Linked DNA regions of Homo sapiens. The protein of the gene in region 2 purifies or fractionates together with the protein of the main gene of each other region. This does not show direct contact. Each region holds a gene or a part of one and is shown on either strand. Other genes may lie near its edges.

What was found.
Region 1: the proteins of MSMB (region 2) and PEX6 purify together in Homo sapiens (affinity purification with mass spectrometry; one large-scale study listed by BioGRID and IntAct). This does not show direct contact.
Region 3: the proteins of MSMB (region 2) and SLIT2 purify together in Homo sapiens (affinity purification with mass spectrometry; one large-scale study listed by BioGRID and IntAct). This does not show direct contact.
Region 4: the proteins of MSMB (region 2) and LRP11 purify together in Homo sapiens (affinity purification with mass spectrometry; one large-scale study listed by BioGRID and IntAct). This does not show direct contact.
Region 5: the proteins of MSMB (region 2) and BMP1 purify together in Homo sapiens (affinity purification with mass spectrometry; one large-scale study listed by BioGRID and IntAct). This does not show direct contact.
Region 6: the proteins of MSMB (region 2) and PLXNA1 purify together in Homo sapiens (affinity purification with mass spectrometry; one large-scale study listed by BioGRID and IntAct). This does not show direct contact.
Region 7: the proteins of MSMB (region 2) and KLK3 purify together in Homo sapiens (affinity purification with mass spectrometry, with the first as the bait; one large-scale study listed by BioGRID). This does not show direct contact.

The regions. Positions count from the first base shown.
Region 1 is NC_000006.12:42,969,182-42,972,681, forward strand, and holds part of PEX6 (peroxisome biogenesis factor 6), read right to left. Parts: intron 807-3,500; coding exon 704-806; intron 621-703; coding exon 487-620; intron 1-486. UniProt on the Homo sapiens protein: Component of the PEX1-PEX6 AAA ATPase complex, a protein dislocase complex that mediates the ATP-dependent extraction of the PEX5 receptor from peroxisomal membranes, an essential step for PEX5 recycling.
Region 2 is NC_000010.11:46,043,470-46,047,465, forward strand, and holds the start of MSMB (beta-microseminoprotein isoform a precursor), read right to left. Parts: upstream 2,801-3,996; 5' UTR 2,769-2,800; coding exon 2,766-2,768; intron 1-2,765.
Region 3 is NC_000004.12:20,258,405-20,261,904, reverse strand, and holds part of SLIT2 (slit homolog 2 protein isoform 1 precursor), read right to left. Parts: intron 1-3,500. UniProt on the Homo sapiens protein: Thought to act as molecular guidance cue in cellular migration, and function appears to be mediated by interaction with roundabout homolog receptors.
Region 4 is NC_000006.12:149,854,360-149,857,859, forward strand, and holds part of LRP11 (low-density lipoprotein receptor-related protein 11 isoform 1 precursor), read right to left. Parts: intron 1-3,500.
Region 5 is NC_000008.11:22,175,372-22,178,871, forward strand, and holds part of BMP1 (bone morphogenetic protein 1 isoform 3 precursor), read left to right. Parts: intron 1-771; coding exon 772-942; intron 943-1,161; coding exon 1,162-1,279; intron 1,280-1,552; exon of another isoform or gene 1,553-1,589; coding exon 1,590-1,768; intron 1,769-2,480; coding exon 2,481-2,586; intron 2,587-3,500. UniProt on the Homo sapiens protein: Metalloprotease that plays key roles in regulating the formation of the extracellular matrix (ECM) via processing of various precursor proteins into mature functional enzymes or structural proteins.
Region 6 is NC_000003.12:127,028,115-127,031,614, forward strand, and holds part of PLXNA1 (plexin-A1 precursor), read left to right. Parts: intron 1-66; coding exon 67-226; intron 227-878; coding exon 879-982; intron 983-1,325; coding exon 1,326-1,422; intron 1,423-1,759; coding exon 1,760-1,950; intron 1,951-2,128; coding exon 2,129-2,298; intron 2,299-3,500. UniProt on the Homo sapiens protein: Coreceptor for SEMA3A, SEMA3C, SEMA3F and SEMA6D. Necessary for signaling by class 3 semaphorins and subsequent remodeling of the cytoskeleton. Plays a role in axon guidance, invasive growth and cell migration.
Region 7 is NC_000019.10:50,853,701-50,857,714, forward strand, and holds the start of KLK3 (prostate-specific antigen isoform 1 preproprotein), read left to right. Parts: upstream 1-1,214; 5' UTR 1,215-1,255; coding exon 1,256-1,301; intron 1,302-2,539; coding exon 2,540-2,699; intron 2,700-4,014. UniProt on the Homo sapiens protein: Hydrolyzes semenogelin-1 thus leading to the liquefaction of the seminal coagulum.

The DNA.
Region 1 (3,500 bases), on a different chromosome or scaffold from region 2:
CCAGCATATCCAACAGCCAAAGACTAATTAATTCCCTTTGGCATTGCTGTGCTGCCAATAAAACCTCAACGTTATGACTGGTCTGAATGGTATTGAGAGACATTGTGGTGGCACTGAGGTGGGGATCTGCGTCCACACCTGGGCCACTGGTATGAGGAGTTGTGTCCTTCAGGGCCAGGGCAGTAAAGTGCAGGATGGCCAGTGAGCTCCCCAAGGGGAAGGGCAGTCTCAGAAACAGATGCCCCTGCTGGAGATTCTTCCTCCAGAGCCAGCCCTGGAGGACAGAGGTTATCCCAGGAAAGGAGCCTGGGAATTGGCTTACAGAAAGGAGTGGCCTGGTGGCCTTGTGTAGGACATACTGGTTTGAGGAAGGTCCTCCCAATCCCACTCTGGCCAGTTCATTAGGAACTACCCATCTGGCTGCTGCTCCTCCAGGGATGTTCTAAGCAGGCTTTTCTCACACCCTGGGGTGATGACCTCACTCACCCTGGCTGGAGGCGAGGCTTCAGGACAGCACAGAGTTCAGACACCAAGGCCTCCAGGCCTGGAGGAGACAAACTGCTCCAGAGAGTGGATTCCTCTGAAGGGAGCCATGGAACAGGGCTCAGGGTAGAACCCACCTGTGAAAGGTAATAAAAAGCTTTCGTTTCTAAAAATCGTTTCTACCCCCTGCGCTGGTCTACACCCATCCTTGGGGCCTCACCATGTACAAGGAGGTATGGGTGGTGTCGGCCAAGTAGGCACTGGCTGGTCCATCTGGAGCTTCCCCAACTGTTTTCTTCACTTTAAAAAACATTTCCCGCCACCTGCAGGAAAAAGGCCCAATGAACCCCAGATCCAGAGTCCAAAAACCCCCCTCCTCAAGGACAAGGTTTCTCAATCACAGAGGACAAACAAAAGCACCACAAGAGCGTGTCCCGAGTCATGGTGGGGAAAAGGAATGCAGATGGACTTTCTCATCTTCCTGACAGACCATACACACCTTGAGGGCAAGAGCTATGCCTGTCCCTCTGCATCCCCCATGACAGCCATGAGAGCTCTGAGGGGGTGTGTTTCTCCAGGCATGTGGCCTACCCACCCACACCAATGGGAGAAGCTGCTGCTGCACTAAGCAGTGGATCATCTGATTACTTCTACTGGCTTCGGTCTCCCCCTCAAATACACAGCCATCCAGGCCCCAAAAACCCTAGGGGGAAGGGTCCCTTGGCTCTTACTCAATAATCCACAAAATCTCATTGCAGGCGGAGTCCTTAATAATGCCATCTGATGAATAATGGTTCTGTATTCTGGCTGCACATTGGAATTATCTGTGTAACTTTAAAAACTAAACATTTCTCACATATTATATGATTCTATTCAGCAGATCAGCAGTTGCCATTGCCTATGAGGGAAGCTACAGGGAATGACTGCTAATGGGTGCAGAGTTTCTTTTTGAGATGTTGAAAATGTTCTGGAATGAAACAGTGATGTTGGCTGTACAACCTTATGAATAAAAAAATTGAATTGTATACTTTAAAAGTATGGTTTTATGGTGTGTGAATTTTATGTTTTTAAAATTAACCTTTCTCCTTCCTTTGTGAAGGAAAAAAAGCACAGGCTCCAGTCTCACCCTGATTCTGCCCCAATAGATCTGGGGTGGGGCTTAGGCACCTGTATTTTTTGAAAGCTTCCCCAGCAATTCTGATGCATAACCAGGGCTGCGCAGTAGTTGGCGAGTGTCATAGTGAGTTAGGGTTATTCAACCTACTAACGGGGAATAGGATGGGTAGCAGGAACAGCTACTAACCCAATTTTCCAGATAAAGAAATCATGAACTACTTCCCTCTTTAATCCTCAGGCAGCAAGGCAATGACAGAGTCAGGCTATAACCTAGTCCTCTTTAAGGTCCAATCAGGCTGCAAATTCCTCTGCTCACACTGCCCCACAGTCTCAAAGCTGCTCTCTCTAGCAGCAAAGGGGTGTGAGAGTGCAGCAAGGTGGAGGGGAAGCATACCAGGTTAGTATTATGAAACTCTTCTAAGTACTACAGTAAACCTGGAACATCAGGAAGCCTGAATCTGCCTATAATTAATTATAAATAGGTGACAGTGGGCCTCTAACCTAGGATCTCGATCAAGCTCAACAGCTGAGTCATGGTGTGTATGACTCACCATGGAAGCCCTGCATAGGAATGAGATGGGGGACAGCACTGTGGCATAGGGAGAGACCACCTTCTTCAGTGGAGGGTGGTTGGACCACCTCAGTGAATAGAAAGGCCAGAGCTCTGGAACCTATGTGGACACTGCTAAGGAACACTGAGCTGTGCTCCAGCCAGCCAGATAGGTGATAGTGGAGCTGGCTCCCATGCAGCCTGGTTTGGGGAAGTGGAGCACCAGGGACAGGATGAAGAGGCTACACCAACAGTGGAATTCCTTTCCAGGGCTCACAGGAACTTCTGCAGGGCTTCCCTTCTCAAGCCCAGTGCAGCTTAAAACGCTCATCTGTATCTGTCCTTGGACCCATTGGGCCACTTACTCCAACCCTGCTTTCCTTGCGGGGAAAAGAACTATGTGCTCGGCACTCAGGAGGAAAGCAGGGTTCTACAGAGTTGAGACAATAGAAGTTCAGGAACAGAACTGGCTTGCCAGCCTGTCTCATGAGGTTCTAGTGCCTATTTTCCTTTGAAAGTACAAAGAGTGGGCATTCTGTAGTTTTCCTACTGAAAGCTAGCTCAAAGACGTTTGCTAAATTTATGATAGGAGAGAGAGGTGGGAAGTGACTGCTAAGTGCCAGCCTGGCATTTTCCACCAGACTCGTGGACTTAATCTGGAAAACCTCGAAGAGGTGACATGGAGCCTAAATGGGGTTCCACAGAGCACCACCACCCTGAGACTGGGGGTACTGAGCACTGGCCAGAACCAAGCACTGGATATTGACCAGGGATGAACATCAGGCACTCCAAACAAGGACTGTCTCTCCTGGCAGAGGACCCAGGCTGGCTATGCCACAGACCTTGGACATGAAGGCTCTTATGTATGAGTTAGTGCATCTATCAGCTGTGCTCTCCTTCTAGTAAACTGCTGCAGGAAATGAGTCCAGAATACAGGGAATGCTGGGATACAGAGCTATACATTTTCCTCCCTACACATAAGGCTAAAGCAGTGTCTCAATTCTTTGCCTCACCATTTTACATGGAACCTCTGTGGTCAGAGTCAACAAGAGGAGAAAAGCTGGATTCCTTATTTTGGGTTCTTGGCTCGGTTATGCTCTATTTCTCATTCTCTGTTGATAGGACAGGGTAGCCCTCTCAAAAACAATAGAAATCCCTGGCTGGGTGCGGTGGCTCACGCCTGTAATCCCAGCACTTTGGGAGGCCGAGGCGGGCGGATCACAAGGTCAGGAGATCGAGACCATCCTGGTTAACACGGTGAAACCCAATCTCTACTAAAAATACAAAAAATTAGCCGGGCGTGGTGGTGGGCACCTGTAGTCCCAGCTACTTGGGAGGCTGAGGCAGGAGA
Region 2 (3,996 bases):
CCTTCCCTGTAAAAAGAGGGGTTCTCCCATTTGGGTGACCATTAGAGTTATCCAGGGAGCTCATAGGAAACACAATCTAGGAGCCAGTGCCTCAGTGTCTTTACCTAGTCTCCCAGGTGAGAACCCAGGAACAATGACCAACCCAGTGCTGCTTTAATGTGCATATAAATTCCTGGGAGTTTTTTTTGTTTTGTTTTGTTTGTCTGTTTGTTTGTTTCTTTTTGGGACGGAATCTCGTTCTATCGCCTAGAGTAGAGTTCAGTGATGCAATCTTGGCTCACTGCAACCTCCGCCTCCCGGGTTCAAGTGATTCTCCTGCCTCAGCCTCCTGAGTAGCTGGGATTACAGGAGTGCACCACCACACCTGGCTAATTTTTGTATTTGTAGTAGAGACGTAGTTTCATCATGTTGGCCAGGCTGGTCTCAAATACCTGACCTCAAATGATCCGCCCGCCTCGGCCTCCCAAAGTGCTGGGATTATGGGCGTGAGCCACCGCGCCCAACCAGACAGCCTGTTAATTAACCTGCAGATTCTGCTTCAGTAGGTCTTTAGACTTACACGGAAGCTCCCAGGTGATGCCCACGCTGCTGGTCTGAGGTCCACCCCTGAGTAGAGAGGCTCTAAAGCTTTTTTCATTCCTGTCTTCTATTCTGCCACCAGCCTTCCTTCCCTTTGTGTCTTCCTTTCCTGCATTTAGTAACCCTGAGCTCCTGATGTGTGCAGGAGATTACACCACGACGCCAGAATGGGCTAGGATTTTCTAGATGGTACAGCGAGCCTTGAGGTGAAGCAGGCTGGCAGTATCCTTAGAAGTTGTGTCTCTTGGCTGGGCGCGGTGGCTCACGCCTGTAATCCCAGCACTTTGGGAGGCCGAGGCGGGTGGATCATGAGGTCAGGAGATCGAGACCATCCTGGCTAACATGGTGAAACCCCGTCTCTACTAAAAATACAAAAAATTAGCTGGGCGTGGTGGCGGGCGCCTGTAGTCCCAGCTACTCAGGAGGCTGAGGCAGGAGAATGGCGTGAACCCGGGAGGTGGAGCTTGCAGTGAGCCGAGATTGCGCCACTGCACTCCAGCCTGGGCGACAGAGAGACTCCGTCTCAGAAAAAAAAAAAAAAAAAAAAAAAAAAAAGTTGTATCTCTTTAGGTAAATTACTGCTCCTGGAAGGGTTATCCCATGATCAAGAGTTGGGGGTCTGGCCAGGCATAATTTCTCACACCTGTAATCCCAGCACTTTGGGAAGCCAAGGTGGGAGGATCACTTGGGCCCAAGAGTTAGAGACCAGCCTGGGCAACATAGTAAAAACTCATCTCTACTACAAATAACAATAATAAAATAAATAAATAAATAAATAAAGAGTTGGGGGTCCTCAGGATCTTAGGCAGGCAGAGGTATTGCCAGCTCTGCAGCTTGCTAAGTTCACTGTGAGGCTGCATAGAGTATAGGCTGGAGGAGCCTGTCTAGTGGAGATGGGGAGGACCTCCCACCCCACTGTTGTTTTACCATCCCCAGTTCTGCCTCCGGACAGTTTCTGAGAGCAAGTTTGTCTTGCCGAGTGGCCCAGAGGAGGCCCGGGGTCCCCTCCTGAGGACCCTCTCCCACCTCCCTTGGCTCCTCCCACTTGGCTGGCTGTTTCTTGCCTCATCTCCCTTGCAGCCCCCAGAGCAGCCCAGTTCAGTCCCCAGCGTTAGTAAAGAATGTTTTAAGAAAGATCAAGTTTAAGACACAAGAAAAGCCTGCATGGGTTTTTATAAATTTTGAAGCAAAATTCTTTCTTGGCCAGGCACAGTGGTTCACACCAGTAATCCCACCACTTTGGGAGGCTGAGGTGGGCAGATTGCATGAGCCCAGGAGTTCAAGACCAGCCTGGGCAGCATAGCAAAATCCTATCTCTAAAACAAATACAAAAATTAGTCGGGCATGGTGGCACTCGCCTGTGGTCCCAGCTACTTGGGAAGCTGAGATGGGAGGATCACCTGAGCCCAGGAAGGTCCAGGCTGCAGTGAATCATGACTGCACCACTGCACTCCAGCCTGGGCAACAGAGTGAGATCCTGTCTCAAAAACAAACAAATAAACCAACAAACACAGCCCCAAACCCAAGATTTTTCCTTAACACATGATACAGTGAAAAGGGCCTAGGGAAATGGTTCCCAAACTTGAGTATTAAAATGACCTGGGCAGCTTTTTAAATTGATGCTCTGTTCTCACTGCAGCCCAATTAAATCAGAGTGTCGGGGTGGAAGATGGGTGTCAGTGTTCTTCAAAATTCCCCCGGAGTTTCCACTGCACAGCCAAGTTTGGGAGCCCCTGGCAGGGAGAGAGGAATGCCTGGGTTCCTATCTCAGCTCATTCACAGGCTTGCGGTGAGACCCCAGTGGCAGCTTCTTCCCCTCCCCAGGCTCAGTTCCCTCATCTCAAAAACGATGCAGTCATGTAGCTCTGAAATTATTTTTAATTTCAAATTACTCACATAGGACCCAAGAATTAGAGACACTTATGAAATCTAATTGAACCCCAGAATTACTGGAAGGAAAAACAACTTAGATCTTAGAGAACAGAACTAGTGCTAAACTCATTACAATTTTCGCAAGCTCTCAGACTCTCATACTCTGCACATTGAATTGCAGGTAATAACATAAGGTTCCTAACTAGGTCACATTTACCATTCAATGCTATGTGGTAGAAGCACACGCATATTAAAATAGGAATACATATTCTCTTTTGCTTTTCTAGCCTTTATATATAAAACCAGTTACCTACCATTGTGATAAGCAGGACTCCTTATAGACAGGTACATCCAGGCAAAGCTGCATCAAACTTTTATACTGGAGAGGGCAACCACGCATTCGACATCATTGGGAATGATAACAAGGTGAGAACACATTGAGTGTTTACAGAGGGTTGACTATCAAAAGGAAAGTATGGTTTCAGATGATTTATGAGTTATTAATCAATCACATCTCCACCCAAGTTATGTGTTTACCTTGTCCCCACCCCGATCTGCATTTGCTGCTGACCTAAAAGAGCAGAGGAGGAGAGAACTTCTCTTTGCTGAGCCTTCGCCCTATGCTGGTGGATTGCTAGCACGTGATGTGTCCTTATTCGATTTTATACACAAAGAAACAGCCTCAGCGATGCCAGTCACAACAGCCAGGTGGTAAAGGTGGGTTTCCTGAAGGCATAAGAATAGCCCACAGGTCAGCCCACCAGGCCCACCGGGCCTGGGTCTGTGGCCCAGATGACCCTGCCCTTAGGGTCTGACATGAGAACAGAAATGGGTCAAGCCATCCTGCAGGGCACAGGAGAGCAAGAACTACATACAGCTCGGGGTTCCCTGACAAGCTGAATTGCTGGACCTTTCTAGAGCCCTTCTTGAATCTGTAGTCTACTCCCTGCTGCATCAAGCAAGCCTTGTTTCTCTTTGTTCCACAGTGGTCTCCTCCCAAACAACCGCACCTGCCCTCATCATGGCTAGGATGGCCTTTGGGGAATGGCAACAAGCAGAACCTCCTAGGGTGCTGGAGGGACTTACTACTTTATCTGTTTGCTCTGCCACCACAACAAAACACTGCAACTGGGTGGCTTTGACTAAAGAAATTTATTTGCTCACAGTTCTGGAGACTAGAAATGTGAGGTCAAGCCATTGGGGAAGGCTTGTTTTCCTCTGAGCCCTCTCTCTTTGGTTTGCAGATGGCCATGCTCTTGCTGCCTCTTACATGGCATGCATCCCTGGCATCTCTCTCTGTGTCCAAATTTCCTCTTCTGATAAGGACACTAGCTGTATTGGATTAGGGTCCACTCTAACTATCTCATTTTACCTAAGCCACCTCTTTAAAGGCCGTGTCTCCATTACAGTCACATTCTGGGATATTGGGGGTTAGGGCTTAAACCAATGAATTTTTAGGGGATGCAATTGAGCTCATAAGACAATTTTATCCCAAAAAGTCCCCTCACTCCTCGCCACAGCTTGCTACAGTTCCTAAAATTTAAC
Region 3 (3,500 bases), on a different chromosome or scaffold from region 2:
ACATTTACCAAGTATTGGTGGGAAAAGATGAACACTCCACATGCCTGCCTTTGTTATTTCCACAATTTTCTTATTTTAAGGTTACAAGATGGTTGCGGTGTTCACACAAAGCCTAATATCCAAGACTTTTCACAGTATGCTACTGATTCTTACCAACATAACCTAGGCATATATGCATTTCACTTTTCAGTCTTGGAGTAAATAATAAAACATCCTATAACAACCCTAAAAAATTTCAAAAACTTTCTCATACTTTTGCATTTGTATTATCAAGGAAATTTCAAAAGAAGATTGTTTTCACTAGTGGAACCCTGACATGATCTGGGTCCCCCTAAAAGACCATAAAATAGAAGTGAATGACTGTAGTATCTAATCCCATAAACAGTGTGTGAACAAGAGAATTTTACACAAGCCCACAGCATTGCTGGGTCCCAGTGTTATTTTTTTAACCCTCTAGGACATTATGCAGCATCCAAAAAAAACTCAAATTAATAATTTTGCATGGAGAATTTATTGCAGATATACACAGGTATCTTCCTTGAGGTATATAAAAGAAATATACTTCCTAAGTGTCCTGATTCTTACTGCAGCTTATTTGTGACTTTTTTATCCGAATTTCCATTGAATTAACTGGTCATCTAGGTAGAGTACATTTCATTTGAAAATTTTTTTGATTAAACAACAGGAGACCTGCTAATACAGTCTATATAAGGCACATACTGAAGGCTTCATTTTCATCCCAGATAAACAGGTACCACTAGCAATACAGAGCATCCTAGGAAATGTGACTCTGCACATGTTAGGTCTGAGAGTGCAGAAACAAACTGTCAAAACAGAAAATAATGTGTGCTCGTGGTATGCAGACGTGATTACAACTTCCTCCTTTTACAGTGATGCACAACCACATTCTGACAATGATGTGTTATCTCATGTTGTAAGAGAATGGAGGAGAGGGGAGGGAAGGAGCTAGTTAGAGAGGTAAGGAAGAAAGAAAAGAAAATGGAAGAAAAAAAGAAGGAGGTGAGGGAGAGGAGGAGGAAAGAAAGGAGGAGGTATTTTACTATTAACTCCTTGACAGTTTATCTGAAAATGTTGTATTTCATCCACTCTTTGAAAGGGAAAACTATCTTTTATAGCTATAATGTTTTGATTTGCAAATAATGACTTTGCCATTCCATGCTACAATTAAATTCAAATCAACAACATGACTGTTTCTTGCAGATTAAAAAGCTGAATTTTTAAAAGGTACAGATCTTTATCTTCTGTTTTCAGATTTTTCTATAGATCAAGTTAAAAGTCCATCAACATAAAATAAAAGAAAAAGAAAAATGTATAACTATGAAATATTCACAAAATGTAATTTAGAATTATTTTATCATTTTAAAATGAAAATAACTTAAAACCATAAATTACACAAGAATAAAATTAATGTTTTTATTTTATTTTGTTCTTCATACAAGGAATAAAAATTAAATCACTATTCAGTATATAAATGGGATTTACAACATAAACCTAATTTTATACTTTTTTCATAATTGAGTTCCAATTTTAAATTTCACAACTAAATTCTTAAAAACCATATAAATTTACACAATACATAATAAAAAGCTAATTTATTGATTTCTTCTTGTCTCTCACATTGTCTCTTGCAGCTTTTGAAAAAGCAAGCAATTTTTTGGTGTTAATGACACTGACTAAAATAAAGATATATACCACAGGCCATAGCAGTTTGATTATGGAACTCTCTGGGTAGTTTTGGGGTTTTTGTAGTTTTTATTTTTTAAATCAATACAATGAACAAAATTTAAAATAGTTTGTTTCACAATAACTTGAATGCATTCCTTAGCAAACCTGCCTTGCCATTTAATGTATTTTTAAAAAATAAATATTTGAAAAGTGTATCCACAATGTTCCTAAGAAATGGTTTTGAATTCCAGAGTCCAAGGAAATGAATTGGCTGTCAGATAACAATGTGCTTCCATCAGATGGATTTGGCAGTTGTAAACAAAAGGAATTTTCTCAGCTTTTCCTCACAAATATGAAATATTTGCTCTTGGCCAACAGCTGGGGTGATTTAAAGAAGTCCTGCATATATATTAGTTTTCATTCAGAATTACAAATCCTCCTCCCACTCTGAAACATCTGACTTAGTCTTAGTAGAATAGAAAATTGTTCTGAGATGAAGTGACATTCCCAGAGGAAGTAAAAGTCAAAAAATAGTACCTACTTACAACTCTAATCAAATTTCAGAGCATATAGCATCTGGTTAATAAGTTTTAGGAAAAGTTAATTTATTCAAGATGAAAGTTCAGACAACACTCTGAAGTGACTTGAAAAAGAATGAGAAAGTTTGTTTAGTTCTAGTGTCCCTGAAAATATTTAAAACAACAATATAACCAAAATAGAGACTGCATAAAAAGCCATCAAAACTCCTTCAATGGTTTGGAAGTTAACAACTAAACTCAAGATACTTTCCTGTGGTGACTAAAAGTTATTCTTGAAAACATAAAGTTTAAATGATAATTTAAATTATCTATTCATTTTACCAAACATTTGAATTATATTGATGCTTTCTTAAAGATTAAAATATCTTTGCAAGTTACTTACTAGGAATTAGCTAATCACATAGTCTATCAAGGAGATCAAAGAATAAATACTTTCAGAGTATTTTTTATATATTTAGAGATAGGCTATGAACTTATAAGCTTTGTTATGAATGCAACCAAATGTTTACCAATTTTAATTTCCCTCTAAAATTAGTTGAAAGTAGTGATTTTAAATTTATTTTGAATTCCACAATTATAGTCCTTGTATTGTAATATTTAACATAGAGAAAGACCAATAGTAAAATAAAGTAGACATTTCTGTGTTTTACTTGAGGTGATAAAAATATAGTCTATATATTTATAAATATCTTGGAAGGGGACAAACCATTTTTCTACTTATGGACAATTACAGGGAATTAACTTCTGCCCTTTTGCCCAGTGAACCTGAATATGTGTTAAGCTTAAAATGAACATTAGATTTTATTATTTTTTGAAAAAAATTATTTTTACTTAAAGTGACTATTAAGGCAGGCATGAAAACTTATTAAAATAATTGTTGTTTCTTTTACTAGAGCTTTTCTTTGCCTTCAAAATGCAAACATATCAAACCTGAATAATCAAGGCATGTAAGACATACAATTCGTACTTCAATTACAAGGTCTGTAATTTATCTTAATTATTTCAGACAGAGGTTTTGTCTTTTGCAGATATATACTGTAAACATTTTTAAAGTCCTCAAGTAATATGTAAAAAACGTATCTTAAAATCTGAAGTCTACATTTAATCTTCTTGGGAAGAAAACCAACTTTGAATGACCACAATTTGATAACACAGTTCTTACTTTCATAATGTTTAGATTATTTTTCCAGAATAAATATTTTTAAAGCTAGGGCCAAATAAAATAAAACTGAAAAGTAATTATTAACAATAACAATGTTCACCACGCTAAATATA
Region 4 (3,500 bases), on a different chromosome or scaffold from region 2:
GCCTCCCAAAGTGCTGGAATTACAAGTGTGAGCCACTGCACCCAGCCTATATTTACCTTTAACCTAGAATGGTACTAAATAATATAAGGTTAATTATGTTTATTTCAATATTAATACTTTACTGACAGCTGCTACAGGGATGACCGAAAGGATAAGCTGTACAAAGAAAACATTTCTAAGAGCATAGTTACCAAAATTTTAATTGATGTAAGCTTCTTAGTAAATTCACCCAAATGCACACATATTTTAAAGAAACAGCAACAGAACTGGAAAAACTCTACAGGTTTGTGTACCACGCCCTCTTTGGCATCCACTTCCCCATTCCTTCAGTGCCAAAGCTCTGGTTCGAGTGCTGGCTGGGCTTGCCCCTCTTTGGCTCACCCTGCACAGTGCTGCAAGGCACCGCCTCTCCTCCTGCTTTCGAGCCCATCACTTTCCTCCACAGGGGCCAATGTTGCTACCTACACAAACTTCTAAAGGGCCAAGCCACACATCCCAGTGCTTGAGTTTCGGGGCTTACTGCAATCCCACCTCAGTGTCTCATTACGGAACAAAAGGTGACCACTCTTGATACATTGCAGCTGAAATGACTCTTCTGGAAAGCTAATCTGACGGGGTCATTCTGCGAGTAGGAAAAACCCTTCAGCAAGTTACCATTGCCTTTCAGATGTTTAGGACCTAACCCTCCAGGATTCTCTTCTCTTCTAGTGGTTCCCTCAATGCCCAGCACCAGGGTGTGGCAACAGGTTGTCATCAGCAACCAGAGCAGCCAGTTTCCACTAACCCTTTCCTGTAATTCTGATGAATGCATAAGTTAAACATTCAAGCTGGAGAAACTGGTGCCTGAGTACAAGGCCTGGAATGTGAAAACAAATACATTAAGACCTCGCCTGGACTTTCTCAGACCCTAACATCTGATCGAAGGCATTCTTACACATATACCTTGTATCAAGGCCACTTAAGATTAAAGAAAATTTTCCAAGGCTCTAGAGACTTTCCAGACCCCAGACCCTAAAGATTAGACTGAATGAAACACTCCTGCTTGTAGGTGCACACTCTCACACAGGCATAGAGGTTGAATTGAATGTAAATAAACACTGAAGAAAAACTTGTAACTTTGAGTTGGTCTGGTGAGTCACTCCCACCATCTTCCTGTCACCAGTTGCAGAAATAAACTCCCTTCTTTCCCAGTCTGTCTGCATCTCATTGGAAAGCGAGAAAAAGCAGCCGGACCTTGATCATCCAGGAACAAGGGGATTTATGTGAGGGGTCTGGGGCTCTTAGAGATGCGGCTTTTCTGAATGAGAATGCTGCTGCCAGCCACAAAGGGAAGATGCCTTTTTTTTTTTTTTTAAAAAAAAAACACATTATGAGGAATTAAGCACAATTGCTTTTTACATGCTATTGCTAACTATGGAGAAGACGTGTCCCATTTTTCCAGTCACTTAAGAGTGAGGACTAGTAACTGTGATTTAAATAAGCCAAGTAAACAATCCCCTGCCTAGGAAGAAACTTGTTCTTCTGCCTTTTTCCACCTCTGAACAAACACGGAGTGTCTGATGTCTTTATGCTGCTTCTGCCAGGTAAGGAGAGATAGGACACTTGCATTATTTTGATAGTCCTTTCATAGTGTTGACCTTTTCTTTGGTTCTGAAAGGTTCATTGTTTCCACACAATGGTTTATGACTTTATAATTCTGGAAAGCATCTTATAACTCAGCAGTTATACATTACAGCTAGCAGCTATTTAAACTTTGTTAAAAATACATTTTTAAGTAGACAAATGAAAATATGTCTATGTGATATAAACAGTAATGGACACATAATTTTTTAAAAACTCTCAAAGATTTAAGATGGAAGAATCAGATAAGCGCTGAAATATTCCACACATTATACAATTAATTAATCCTACCTCTCCTGGAAGAAAAAGATCATTTTAGTCACTTACTTTTATTTAGGTGAGCTTTAAGATGAATTATAAGCTTAGTGAAATCATCCTATCTTCTAAACTGATCACTGATGTGTCTGAAATAACACAGATAATGTTTCCTTTTCAGTTCAAGTCCAGGCCATTTCCATTGTAAAATGTATTTTAAAATAACCCAGAGCTTATCTACCCAGAAACAGTCCTTAAAATAAACAAATAACAACACGAAGAGGAAGGGAGTGTGCCATTTTAAAATGTGTGACTTGCTAATGAAGAACAAAATATATGTAATTTTGAATTTTTGTCAAAAAAATGTAATAAACCCATGTTAAGTACTAGGGAAACACTGGTTTCTTTTGAAAACTAAACACACTTAGTAAGACCTACAGAGGTGAAATAAGACTCCTGCCGATTGAGAATGAGCAAATCAAGGTGGCATTTTATTCAGAGAAGTGTAATATAATATCAACCAGCCTCATTCACAACACGCTACTGTGCACAGAGCCTCCATGACAAGGAAGACATTCTGTGCTGTGTGGGAACGAATGGTATAGCTCAGGCAGAGCAACTGGAAAGAACCCTGAAGTCAGGGTACGGAAGCGGGGCGAGACTAGGGGAAGAGGCTCAGATACATGCGGTCAAAATCCATCATGGATTTCCAACTGCAACACTTCGGAAAAAAAATTATCCGCAACCCCAATATGATTATTGTGATTTTTGGTATGTACTGATCCAGTCCTTCTCCCTATGGTGCTGCTGATAATAATTATAATAGTTGCCATTTACTGAGGGATTTTGAAGCTGACTTTGCAAAAATTATAGCTGAGAAAATTATAACAGTGAAATAGATCTGACCTGACTCCATGTGGCTTCTAATCTCCAAGCTGTCCTTGTCCATTCCTGGGCATAGGCCGAACTAATTTTGGGAGGAACTTGGTTTACAGTCTGACTTTGAAACAGACGCGGCCGGGTGTGGTGATTCATGCTTGTAATCCCAGCACTTTGGGAGGCTGAGGTGGGCAGACTGCTTGAGCCCAGGAGTTCCAGACCAGCCTGGAACTGGTGAAACCCCATCTCTACTAAAAATACAGAAAGTAGCCTGATGTGTGGCACATGCCTATAGTCCCAGTTACTTGGGGGGCTGAGGAATTCAAAGCTACGGTGAGCCAAGACTGTGCCACTTCACTCCTGCCTGCATAACAAAGTGAGTCCCTGTGTCAAAAAAAAAAAAAAAAGTAAAAAGAAACAAAGATGGTAACAGCCCTTTCCCCAAATAAGCCCCTTTCTTGCCTGAGGACTGGACTGCCTTTGCAAAACTAACAAATAAGCCACAAGATTAGAAATTATGGCTTAGGCATCACTATTATAAAACCTAAGTTCAGTGCTTGAGATATTTTATAGACCCTGTCCTCGATGGTTGGCAGCACCCCGTTGGCAGTACCTAGGTTGATAAACTGGCTCATCTGGTCTTGTGTTTTATCCGCACAACCAGTTCCTTGTGAATTAAACTCTTTCTCTATTGCAATTCCCCTGTCTTGATAAATCAGCTCTGTGTAGGCAGTGGGCAAGGAGAA
Region 5 (3,500 bases), on a different chromosome or scaffold from region 2:
ACAATTCCTAGAAAATGAGTACACCTTTGTTCTCTTTTACGATTATTGTCAATTCTTGCTATTTATGGAAGTTATAGAATAACTTTATAGTTACTCTGTACAGTCACTGAAAACATTAGCAAATACTGACCCATTGCTCCTAGGGAAAATACAGGGTCAGGTTCCTTCAAGCCTCTGGTCACAACATTTTTGTCAACTGATCAGTGCATCACCTTGTTTTATGAGTGTTTCTTTTTAAAGACACCTTACTTAATATGGAGCTGATTCATTAACATTGAACTCATGACCAACAGCACTCTAACTCATGCCTCGAAGAAGCTTACCTAGCACACGTATGTTCTCTGTGAGGCATATCACAGCCTTCTTGCCCTTGGGAACACCAGAGAGCACTTCAGCATTATGCTCAGGGGCTGTTTTAAACAGCGAAACCCTCAACAAAGCGCACAAAAACACAAAAAACAGGGCACTTTAACTAGACCTCAAAAAGGACACTTGGTTACACAATGAGAGCCGAAAGCAGAAAGCGGAGCGTTGCCTTATTCCACCTCAGCTGGGAACATGCATGTTGGGTGACTGAAATTTTTCACTGCTCTGCAAATGTCCACAAATGACCGTGAAAGCCCTGAGAGTATTGATTTTGGGGACTACGAATAAATTTTAGCCAGTAGACAAATTTGCAAGCACAGAATCCATGAAAAATGAGGTTTGACTATGCTTTTGCTTTCCTCCTCTTTCTCTCCACTCACTAGTCACCATGACTTCCTCTCTCAGTTCCAGGAAACACTTCTACCCCCAGCTGCCAGAGCACCAACGGGCAGCCTCAGAGGGGAGCCTGTGGGAGATGGAGAGGTAGATCCCGTAGCCGGCGGGCGGCGACGTCCCGACCAGAGCGTGTGTGGCCCGATGGGGTCATCCCCTTTGTCATTGGGGGAAACTTCACTGGTGAGCGTGCTATTGTGGGTCCCAGAGTGTAACCAGCTTCCGGGCCTGGCCTTGTGGCAGCCCTGCCAGGCACGGAGGCGTGGGTGCCACCTGCAGCCCGAGTGCCCACACATTCCTTTCCAGGCAGTCTGCCCTCAGAATGGCTGTGACTCTTCAGTGGTGGGTAGGGGGTGGGACTGCCTGGACACCGTGGCAACCTGGCTTCCTTCCTCCTGGCAGGTAGCCAGAGGGCAGTCTTCCGGCAGGCCATGAGGCACTGGGAGAAGCACACCTGTGTCACCTTCCTGGAGCGCACTGACGAGGACAGCTATATTGTGTTCACCTATCGACCTTGCGGGTGAGCAGGAAGCCCTAGGCGCTGTACCTTCCGCCATTGCCCCAACCCAGGTTCTGCCCTGGGCCCTGCCACTGCCCCCAGCTGGGCACAGCCTTGGGTCCCTTTATCCCCTCCTGCTATGGGGCATCTACCCAGGAACTGCCCCCTGTGCGGCTGTGACCTCCAGCACACAGCCTGGGCACTCGGTGCTCAGGGCCCACCCCTCCCCTTCGCTCCCCTGCCGCCCCGCCCCCGGCAGCCTGGCCCCGCCCCTGAGTGGATGCACTCCCCCAGCTCGGGACCGCCCCCCTGAGCTGGCCCCGCCCTCCAGGTGCTGCTCCTACGTGGGTCGCCGCGGCGGGGGCCCCCAGGCCATCTCCATCGGCAAGAACTGTGACAAGTTCGGCATTGTGGTCCACGAGCTGGGCCACGTCGTCGGCTTCTGGCACGAACACACTCGGCCAGACCGGGACCGCCACGTTTCCATCGTTCGTGAGAACATCCAGCCAGGTAGGTACCTGCCCCTCGGTGCGGCCTTGGTGGGCGGCTCCCGCCCCAGCCCCCACCTCCAGGACCCCTGGGGGCAGTGGCAGCCGCTCCAGCCAGCCGTCATCGCCTGGGCCCGCAGCGCTGCCCACAGCCTGGGTTGAGCCAGCCCCTGCCCTTGAGGCATTTCCTCCTCCGTGTCAGATCAAGGACCCGCATCCATTGTGGAGCTCCTCTGGGAGGCTGGGCCAGGTCCTGGTCCTGGACAGCGGTAGCCCGGGCAGCCTCTAGGGTGGGGCATGGGCATAGTGGGCCGTCCTGGGGACTGCTCAGGCCTTTCTCCCCACCTTTGCCCACTATCTGCCCTCTGCCTGGTCTGCCCTCCGAGGGCTTTTCTCTCATTTTCTCGATGTCTCTGTCCCTCCCTTCCCGCCTCCTCCCTCTCTCCCAGGCGTTCTCCACTCTTCACTGCTCCTTCTCAGCTGTGGCTCTAGAAATGGTGCTTCCTTCCCATGTTCCCTTGAGTCCTCCATTCACCAGGCCCTCTGCTGGACAGGACTCTTCCTGAGACCCTCCCCATTCCCCAGGCTCCCCTTGGCTGCTCCCCGGACCCTCAGGTAGGGGGACTCTCTCAGATACAGGAAGGACTCCATTCCCTGCCCTGGAAAGTGAGCGTTGCATCCCAGGCAGACCCACCCCCTCCTCTCCCCCCACACCCTTTTCCTGATCTTGGCAGGGCAGGAGTATAACTTCCTGAAGATGGAGCCTCAGGAGGTGGAGTCCCTGGGGGAGACCTATGACTTCGACAGCATCATGCATTACGCTCGGAACACATTCTCCAGGTGGGAGACGGGATTGGGGCTGGGCCTCTGCTCGGGCAGCCCCACCCTGCCCTCTGTAGGCTATTCTCCTCCTGCCTCCCACTTCTGGGGCAGTGACCCAGGAAAAGAGTGGCCCTCTGGGGGGCTGTGGCCTCCAAGCAGAGGGTCCGTGGATGTTGCCTGCCCTCCTGTCCTCTTCCACGGGTGGGTCTGTGGCAGGGCCTTACCACCGTGTGCACCCAGGGCACCTGGCGGAGGAGGCTGAACCCAGCCACTCTGCAAGCCCAGCAGTGTGGGGTAGCCCCAAACTATCAGCCCAAAGGGTGCTGAGCTTTTATTTGTGGGCCATTTGTTTGTTTTTGTTTTTGTTTGAGACAGGATCTTGCTCTGTCACCTAGGCTGGAGTGCAGTGGCACAGTCATGGCTCACTGCAGCCTCAAACTCCTAGGCTCAAGGAATCGTCCCGTCTCAGCCTACTGAGTAGCTAGGATGACAGGCACACGCCACCGTGCCTTTTTTTTTAGAGATGGGGTCTCACTATATTGCCCAGGCTGGTCTCGAACTCCTGGGCTGAAGGGATCCTCCCACCTCGGCCTCCCAAAACGCTGAGATTACAGGCGCGAGCCACCAATGCCCAGCCATTCCTTTTTAATTAGTCTGCTTTTTTTGTAATTGGCCAGTTTGCACGAAGCCTGACCCCTGCCCTGGACTAGCCCCCATGCCCAGCTCCGAAGCACATCCTCCTTATCTGAGGCCCAGGTCCCCAGAAGCCACAACCAGAGCCCTCAAAGGTGGTGGCCCAGCCTCCCCTCCCCCAAGATTCTCCTTAGCAGTGTGGGAAATGGCACCTCCCTCCTCCTCAAACTCCTTCCTGGCCTGGCCATTCCCAGGCCTGGTGCTTTGCTCATCCTCTGTCTGTGTCCCAGACAGTGGCC
Region 6 (3,500 bases), on a different chromosome or scaffold from region 2:
GCCCTGGTGCCCCCCACCCCCCAGTTGTGGGGCTGACGCTGCCCCCTTGCTCCACCCCGCCCGCAGACCCTGAACTGTGTGAACCCTGAGAATGAGAATGCACCTGAGGTGCCGGTGAAGGGGCTGGACTGTGACACGGTCACCCAGGCCAAGGAGAAGCTGCTGGACGCTGCCTACAAGGGCGTGCCCTACTCCCAGCGGCCCAAGGCCGCGGACATGGACCTGGGTGAGCGGGCGGGGCCACGGCTGCCCGGGGTGTGTGCTGGAGCAGAGGGGCAGGGCCATGGCCTAGTACTGAGCTTGGCGGGGAAGGCCAGGCCAGTCCTCCACACCAGGCTGGTCTGGAGGGCAGTGGAATGGCGAGTGGGCTGTCCAGTCCCAGGTTGGGTATAGAGGGTGGCTGCCCTGCTCTGGGCAGAGACTCTGGGAGGTGGTGGGTTCCAGTGCACTCTGGGAGGCAGTGGGCTCTTGGAGCCCTGAGGGGGATACTCAGGCTCATGAGAGGGGCAGGTGGAGCCATTGAGGGCCAGAGGGGATGGGACGGGTTTGGGGTGGGGCCCGGAGTCCTGCTGCAGATGTGACTGGAGAGGCTGGGTCCCCACAGAAGCCTCGGTGCCAGGCTGAGGAGTTGGGGCCCTAAGGCTTGCGGAAGGCAGGGCAGACCCCCTTAGGCTGGGGCTGCTGTGGCAGATTGGGAGGGCTGTGGCACATTGCAGGGGACTATGGCAGGTTAAGTGTGCTGCAGCAGGGGCGGAGGTATGTCCCTGCCCTGTGCTGGTGCTGAGAGCTGCAGGCAGGCCCCGTCCCACTACACTGCTGTGATGGAGGAGGGAAAGAGGGCCCCAGCGGCCCCACCCTCCAGCTCCCTCCTCCCCCAGAGTGGCGCCAGGGCCGCATGGCGCGCATCATCCTGCAGGACGAGGACGTCACCACCAAGATTGACAACGATTGGAAGAGGCTGAACACACTGGCTCACTACCAGGTGGCTCCCGGCCCTCCGACCCTAGCACAGGCCTCCCTCCCCTTGGGGCTTCCACAGCGCAGCCACCAATGTTTGCAGCATGTGGGCTGGACAGCAGCTGGATCTGTCAGGGAGAGGAGGGGAGGTGGTCACTTATGTGTGTGGACCGTCCCAGGACTCGAGCTGGGCTTGTGGGATTGCCTAGCATCCCTGGGCTGTCCTGATATAGAGTTCCAGACTGAGTGAGGTGGCTGCCTCCAGGCACAGCACTAGGGTGTCACCGGGGTCCCCAGCCGGGGAGTGGGAGCCTGGTGGTGCAGGGGCACCCTGGTGGGTCACAGGGTCCCTGGCCCTCTGCCCACAGGTGACAGACGGGTCCTCGGTGGCACTGGTGCCCAAGCAGACGTCCGCCTACAACATCTCCAACTCCTCCACCTTCACCAAGTCCCTCAGCAGATACGGTGAGGGGCCAGGCAGCGGGCGAGAGGGCAGCGCATGGGTCCCTGGCCTGGGCAGGACGTCCCCCGGGCTCCCACGCTGCAGCAGCCGGACGGGAGGACCCAGGGGCAGGTGTCAAGCCTGTCACTCGCACTCTTGGCCTTACCCTCCAGCTCTGGAGGCTGCGCCTCCTCGCGACTGTGTGTCCGTACACAATTATGCCACCTCTGTGGTGTCATCGGCTGCCCCAAAATCCCACATGGGTGGGGGTGCCATCCCCAGCTTTCAGATGGGGAAACAGGCTCGGGCGGGGGGTGCGGGGTGCCAGCCAACGCGGGCGCTGACAGCCTGGTGCTGCAGAGAGCATGCTGCGCACGGCCAGCAGCCCCGACAGCCTGCGCTCGCGCACGCCCATGATCACGCCCGACCTGGAGAGCGGCACCAAGCTGTGGCACCTGGTGAAGAACCACGACCACCTGGACCAGCGTGAGGGTGACCGCGGCAGCAAGATGGTCTCGGAGATCTACTTGACACGGCTACTGGCCACCAAGGTGGGCCTGGCTGGCAGATGGGGGCAGGGGACGCTGGGCCAACTGAGCTCAGAGAAAGTGCCAAGCCCAGAGCAAGGGCCTCACCCCCATGCTCCCATGGCCACTTGCCTAGTCACCCAGGAGGTGTAGGCAGCCAGGCAGCGCCCTGGGGCTCAGTGTCCCTGCCTGCCCCCCGCAGGGCACACTGCAGAAGTTTGTGGACGACCTGTTTGAGACCATCTTCAGCACGGCACACCGGGGCTCAGCCCTGCCGCTGGCCATCAAGTACATGTTCGACTTCCTGGATGAGCAGGCCGACAAGCACCAGATCCACGATGCTGACGTGCGCCACACCTGGAAGAGCAACTGGTAATGCAGGGCAGGGGGAGGAGGGGCATCCCCCAGGGCCAGGCCAGATGTGTTCCCAGGGCCCTCGCCCTGTTCTGATCCGGAGCCCCCACTTGGGGCTCCCTGGCGTGGGGACACAACCCAGCAGGGGCATGGCGGGCCAGTCCTGTGCTAACTGGCCTTCCCTATCTGCCTGTGCCCCTTGACCCACGGCTCGCCCTCTGCTCCAGCCGCTGAGCCCCTCCCACTGCTGCAGGAACTGTGTGCAGGTGTGAGTGGCTCTGGGTGTGCACAGCTGTGCGGACATGAGTGTGGGCTGCAGCGTGAGAAACAGGGCACAGTGGACCAGCCCCAAGCCGGCTGGTTGCAGTGATGAGGGCAACAGGGACTGCAGGTACTCCTGGTAGTCTTTAGTGCGAGGAATTTACAGCCTCCCCATTGCAGTGTGGGGCCAGGCCAGAGCCTGCTTACTGAGGCGCAGAGGCCGAGCCACTTGCCACGGTCTCACGGAGCAGCTGGAGTACGGAGCAGGGCCTGCCCAGCCTGCACCGTGCACAGCTACACCAATGTGAGCTGGGGCTCTATGAGGCTGGGTTTTGTTATGAAGAGGCACCCAGCCTCTGAGTGGCCTCCCTCCAGAGTATCTGCCTCCCTGGCCAGCCAGTCCCTTGCTTTCCTCCGGCCTGGCCCACCCCTGGGACAGTGACCTGCTTCTTCCCTGGTCATGGACTGCCCAACTCAGCAATGTTGGCTTCCTCTCTGCCACACAGGCAGGCCAGCCCTTGGCCTCACTCCTTACTCAGGACCCCCAAGCTCTGGTCTGTGGCCCCCTGCTCCGGTTGGCACACTGTAGCCACACCCTAGCCCCTGGAGCGGGTCCCTGCTGTGTGTGTGGCCCCCACCCCAGCAGACAACCCCACCATTGCCTGCTACAGGGGAGCCCCTCTCTGTGCACCAGGCCCCTCTACCTGCATGGCCGAGGGCTTCTGGGGTAGGACTGCTCCCCCACACCTGGGGTCAGGTGGATGCCCTTGCCTGTATGGCTGGACCCTGCTTCACCAGGAAGTGCCCCTCCTCACCGTGCATCCTGCTGGGGTCTCCCCCCAGTTCTGTGCACACTCTCCACTGTCTTAGCTCCCCTCTCTCCTGGACTGTCCCTGCCACTTCTGCTGGCTCCCGGGCCAGCAGCCACCCCCGACTTGGTCTTGTCCATCCCATGTGTT
Region 7 (4,014 bases), on a different chromosome or scaffold from region 2:
CAACACCATGGGAGGCTGAGATGGGTGGATCACGAGGTCAGGAGTTTGAGACCAGCCTGACCAACATGGTGAAACTCTGTCTCTACTAAAAAAAAAAAAAATAGAAAAATTAGCCGGGCGTGGTGGCACACGGCACCTGTAATCCCAGCTACTGAGGAGGCTGAGGCAGGAGAATCACTTGAACCCAGAAGGCAGAGGTTGCAATGAGCCGAGATTGCGCCACTGCACTCCAGCCTGGGTGACAGAGTGAGACTCTGTCTCAAAAAAAAAAAATTTTTTTTTTTTTTTTGTAGAGATGGATCTTGCTTTGTTTCTCTGGTTGGCCTTGAACTCCTGGCTTCAAGTGATCCTCCTACCTTGGCCTCGGAAAGTGTTGGGATTACAGGCGTGAGCCACCATGACTGACCTGTCGTTTAATCTTGAGGTACATAAACCTGGCTCCTAAAGGCTAAATATTTTGTTGGAGAAGGGGCATTGGATTTTGCATGAGGATGATTCTGACCTGGGAGGGCAGGTCAGCAGGCATCTCTGTTGCACAGATAGAGTGCACAGGTCTGGAGAACAAGGAGTGGGGGGTTATTGGAATTCCACATTGTTTGCTGCACGTTGGATTTTGAAATGCTAGGGAACTTTGGGAGACTCATATTTCTGGGCTAGAGGATCTGTGGACCACAAGATCTTTTTATGATGACAGTAGCAATGTATCTGTGGAGCTGGATTCTGGGTTGGGAGTGCAAGGAAAAGAATGTACTAAATGCCAAGACATCTATTTCAGGAGCATGAGGAATAAAAGTTCTAGTTTCTGGTCTCAGAGTGGTGCAGGGATCAGGGAGTCTCACAATCTCCTGAGTGCTGGTGTCTTAGGGCACACTGGGTCTTGGAGTGCAAAGGATCTAGGCACGTGAGGCTTTGTATGAAGAATCGGGGATCGTACCCACCCCCTGTTTCTGTTTCATCCTGGGCGTGTCTCCTCTGCCTTTGTCCCCTAGATGAAGTCTCCATGAGCTACAGGGCCTGGTGCATCCAGGGTGATCTAGTAATTGCAGAACAGCAAGTGCTAGCTCTCCCTCCCCTTCCACAGCTCTGGGTGTGGGAGGGGGTTGTCCAGCCTCCAGCAGCATGGGGAGGGCCTTGGTCAGCCTCTGGGTGCCAGCAGGGCAGGGGCGGAGTCCTGGGGAATGAAGGTTTTATAGGGCTCCTGGGGGAGGCTCCCCAGCCCCAAGCTTACCACCTGCACCCGGAGAGCTGTGTCACCATGTGGGTCCCGGTTGTCTTCCTCACCCTGTCCGTGACGTGGATTGGTGAGAGGGGCCATGGTTGGGGGGATGCAGGAGAGGGAGCCAGCCCTGACTGTCAAGCTGAGGCTCTTTCCCCCCCAACCCAGCACCCCAGCCCAGACAGGGAGCTGGGCTCTTTTCTGTCTCTCCCAGCCCCACTCCAAGCCCATACCCCCAGCCCCTCCATATTGCAACAGTCCTCACTCCCACACCAGGTCCCCGCTCCCTCCCACTTACCCCAGAACTTTCTCCCCATTGCCCAGCCAGCTCCCTGCTCCCAGCTGCTTTACTAAAGGGGAAGTTCCTGGGCATCTCCGTGTTTCTCTTTGTGGGGCTCAAAACCTCCAAGGACCTCTCTCAATGCCATTGGTTCCTTGGACCGTATCACTGGTCCACCTCCTGAGCCCCTCAATCCTATCACAGTCTACTGACTTTTCCCATTCAGCTGTGAGTGCCCAACCCTATCCCAGAGACCTTGATGCTTGGCCTCCCAATCTTGCCCTAGGATACCCAGATGCCAACCAGACACCTCCTTCTTCCTAGCCAGGCTATCTGGCCTGAGACAACAAATGGGTCCCTCAGTCTGGCAATGGGACTCTGAGAACTCCTCATTCCCTGACTCTTAGCCCCAGACTCTTCATTCAGTGGCCCACATTTTCCTTAGGAAAAACATGAGCATCCCCAGCCACAACTGCCAGCTCTCTGATTCCCCAAATCTGCATCCTTTTCAAAACCTAAAAACAAAAAGAAAAACAAATAAAACAAAACCAACTCAGACCAGAACTGTTTTCTCAACCTGGGACTTCCTAAACTTTCCAAAACCTTCCTCTTCCAGCAACTGAACCTCGCCATAAGGCACTTATCCCTGGTTCCTAGCACCGCTTATCCCCTCAGAATCCACAACTTGTACCAAGTTTCCCTTCTCCCAGTCCAAGACCCCAAATCACCACAAAGGACCCAATCCCCAGACTCAAGATATGGTCTGGGCGCTGTCTTGTGTCTCCTACCCTGATCCCTGGGTTCAACTCTGCTCCCAGAGCATGAAGCCTCTCCACCAGCACCAGCCACCAACCTGCAAACCTAGGGAAGATTGACAGAATTCCCAGCCTTTCCCAGCTCCCCCTGCCCATGTCCCAGGACTCCCAGCCTTGGTTCTCTGCCCCCGTGTCTTTTCAAACCCACATCCTAAATCCATCTCCTATCCGAGTCCCCCAGTTCCTCCTGTCAACCCTGATTCCCCTGATCTAGCACCCCCTCTGCAGGTGCTGCACCCCTCATCCTGTCTCGGATTGTGGGAGGCTGGGAGTGCGAGAAGCATTCCCAACCCTGGCAGGTGCTTGTGGCCTCTCGTGGCAGGGCAGTCTGCGGCGGTGTTCTGGTGCACCCCCAGTGGGTCCTCACAGCTGCCCACTGCATCAGGAAGTGAGTAGGGGCCTGGGGTCTGGGGAGCAGGTGTCTGTGTCCCAGAGGAATAACAGCTGGGCATTTTCCCCAGGATAACCTCTAAGGCCAGCCTTGGGACTGGGGGAGAGAGGGAAAGTTCTGGTTCAGGTCACATGGGGAGGCAGGGTTGGGGCTGGACCACCCTCCCCATGGCTGCCTGGGTCTCCATCTGTGTTCCTCTATGTCTCTTTGTGTCGCTTTCATTATGTCTCTTGGTAACTGGCTTCGGTTGTGTCTCTCCGTGTGACTATTTTGTTCTCTCTCTCCCTCTCTTCTCTGTCTTCAGTCTCCATATCTCCCCCTCTCTCTGTCCTTCTCTGGTCCCTCTCTAGCCAGTGTGTCTCACCCTGTATCTCTCTGCCAGGCTCTGTCTCTCGGTCTCTGTCTCACCTGTGCCTTCTCCCTACTGAGCACACGCATGGGATGGGCCTGGGGGGACCCTGAGAAAAGGAAGGGCTTTGGCTGGGCGCGGTGGCTCACACCTGTAATCCCAGCACTTTGGGAGGCCAAGGCAGGTAGATCACCTGAGGTCAGGAGTTCGAGACCAGCCTGGCCAACTGGTGAAACCCCATCTCTACTAAAAATACAAAAAATTAGCCAGGCGTGGTGGCGCATGCCTGTAGTCCCAGCTACTCAGGAGGCTGAGGGAGGAGAATTGCTTGAACCTGGGAGGTGGAGGTTGCAGTGAGCCGAGACCGTGCCACTGCACTCCAGCCTGGGTGACAGAGTGAGACTCCGCCTCAAAAAAAAAAAAAAAAAAAAAGAAAAGAAAAGAAAAGAAAAGGAAGTGTTTTATCCCTGATGTGTGTGGGTATGAGGGTATGAGAGGGCCCCTCTCACTCCATTCCTTCTCCAGGACATCCCTCCACTCTTGGGAGACACAGAGAAGGGCTGGTTCCAGCTGGAGCTGGGAGGGGCAATTGAGGGAGGAGGAAGGAGAAGGGGGAAGGAAAACAGGGTATGGGGGAAAGGACCCTGGGGAGCGAAGTGGAGGATACAACCTTGGGCCTGCAGGCCAGGCTACCTACCCACTTGGAAACCCACGCCAAAGCCGCATCTACAGCTGAGCCACTCTGAGGCCTCCCCTCCCCAGCGGTCCCCACTCAGCTCCAAAGTCTCTCTCCCTTTTCTCTCCCACACTCTATCATCCCCCGGATTCCTCTCTACTTGGTTCTCATTCTTCCTTTGACTTCCTGCTTCCCTTTCTCATTCATCTGTTTCTCACTTTCTGCCTGGTTTTGTTCTTCTCTCTCTCTTTCTCTGGCCCATGTCTGTTTCTCTATGTTTCTGTCTT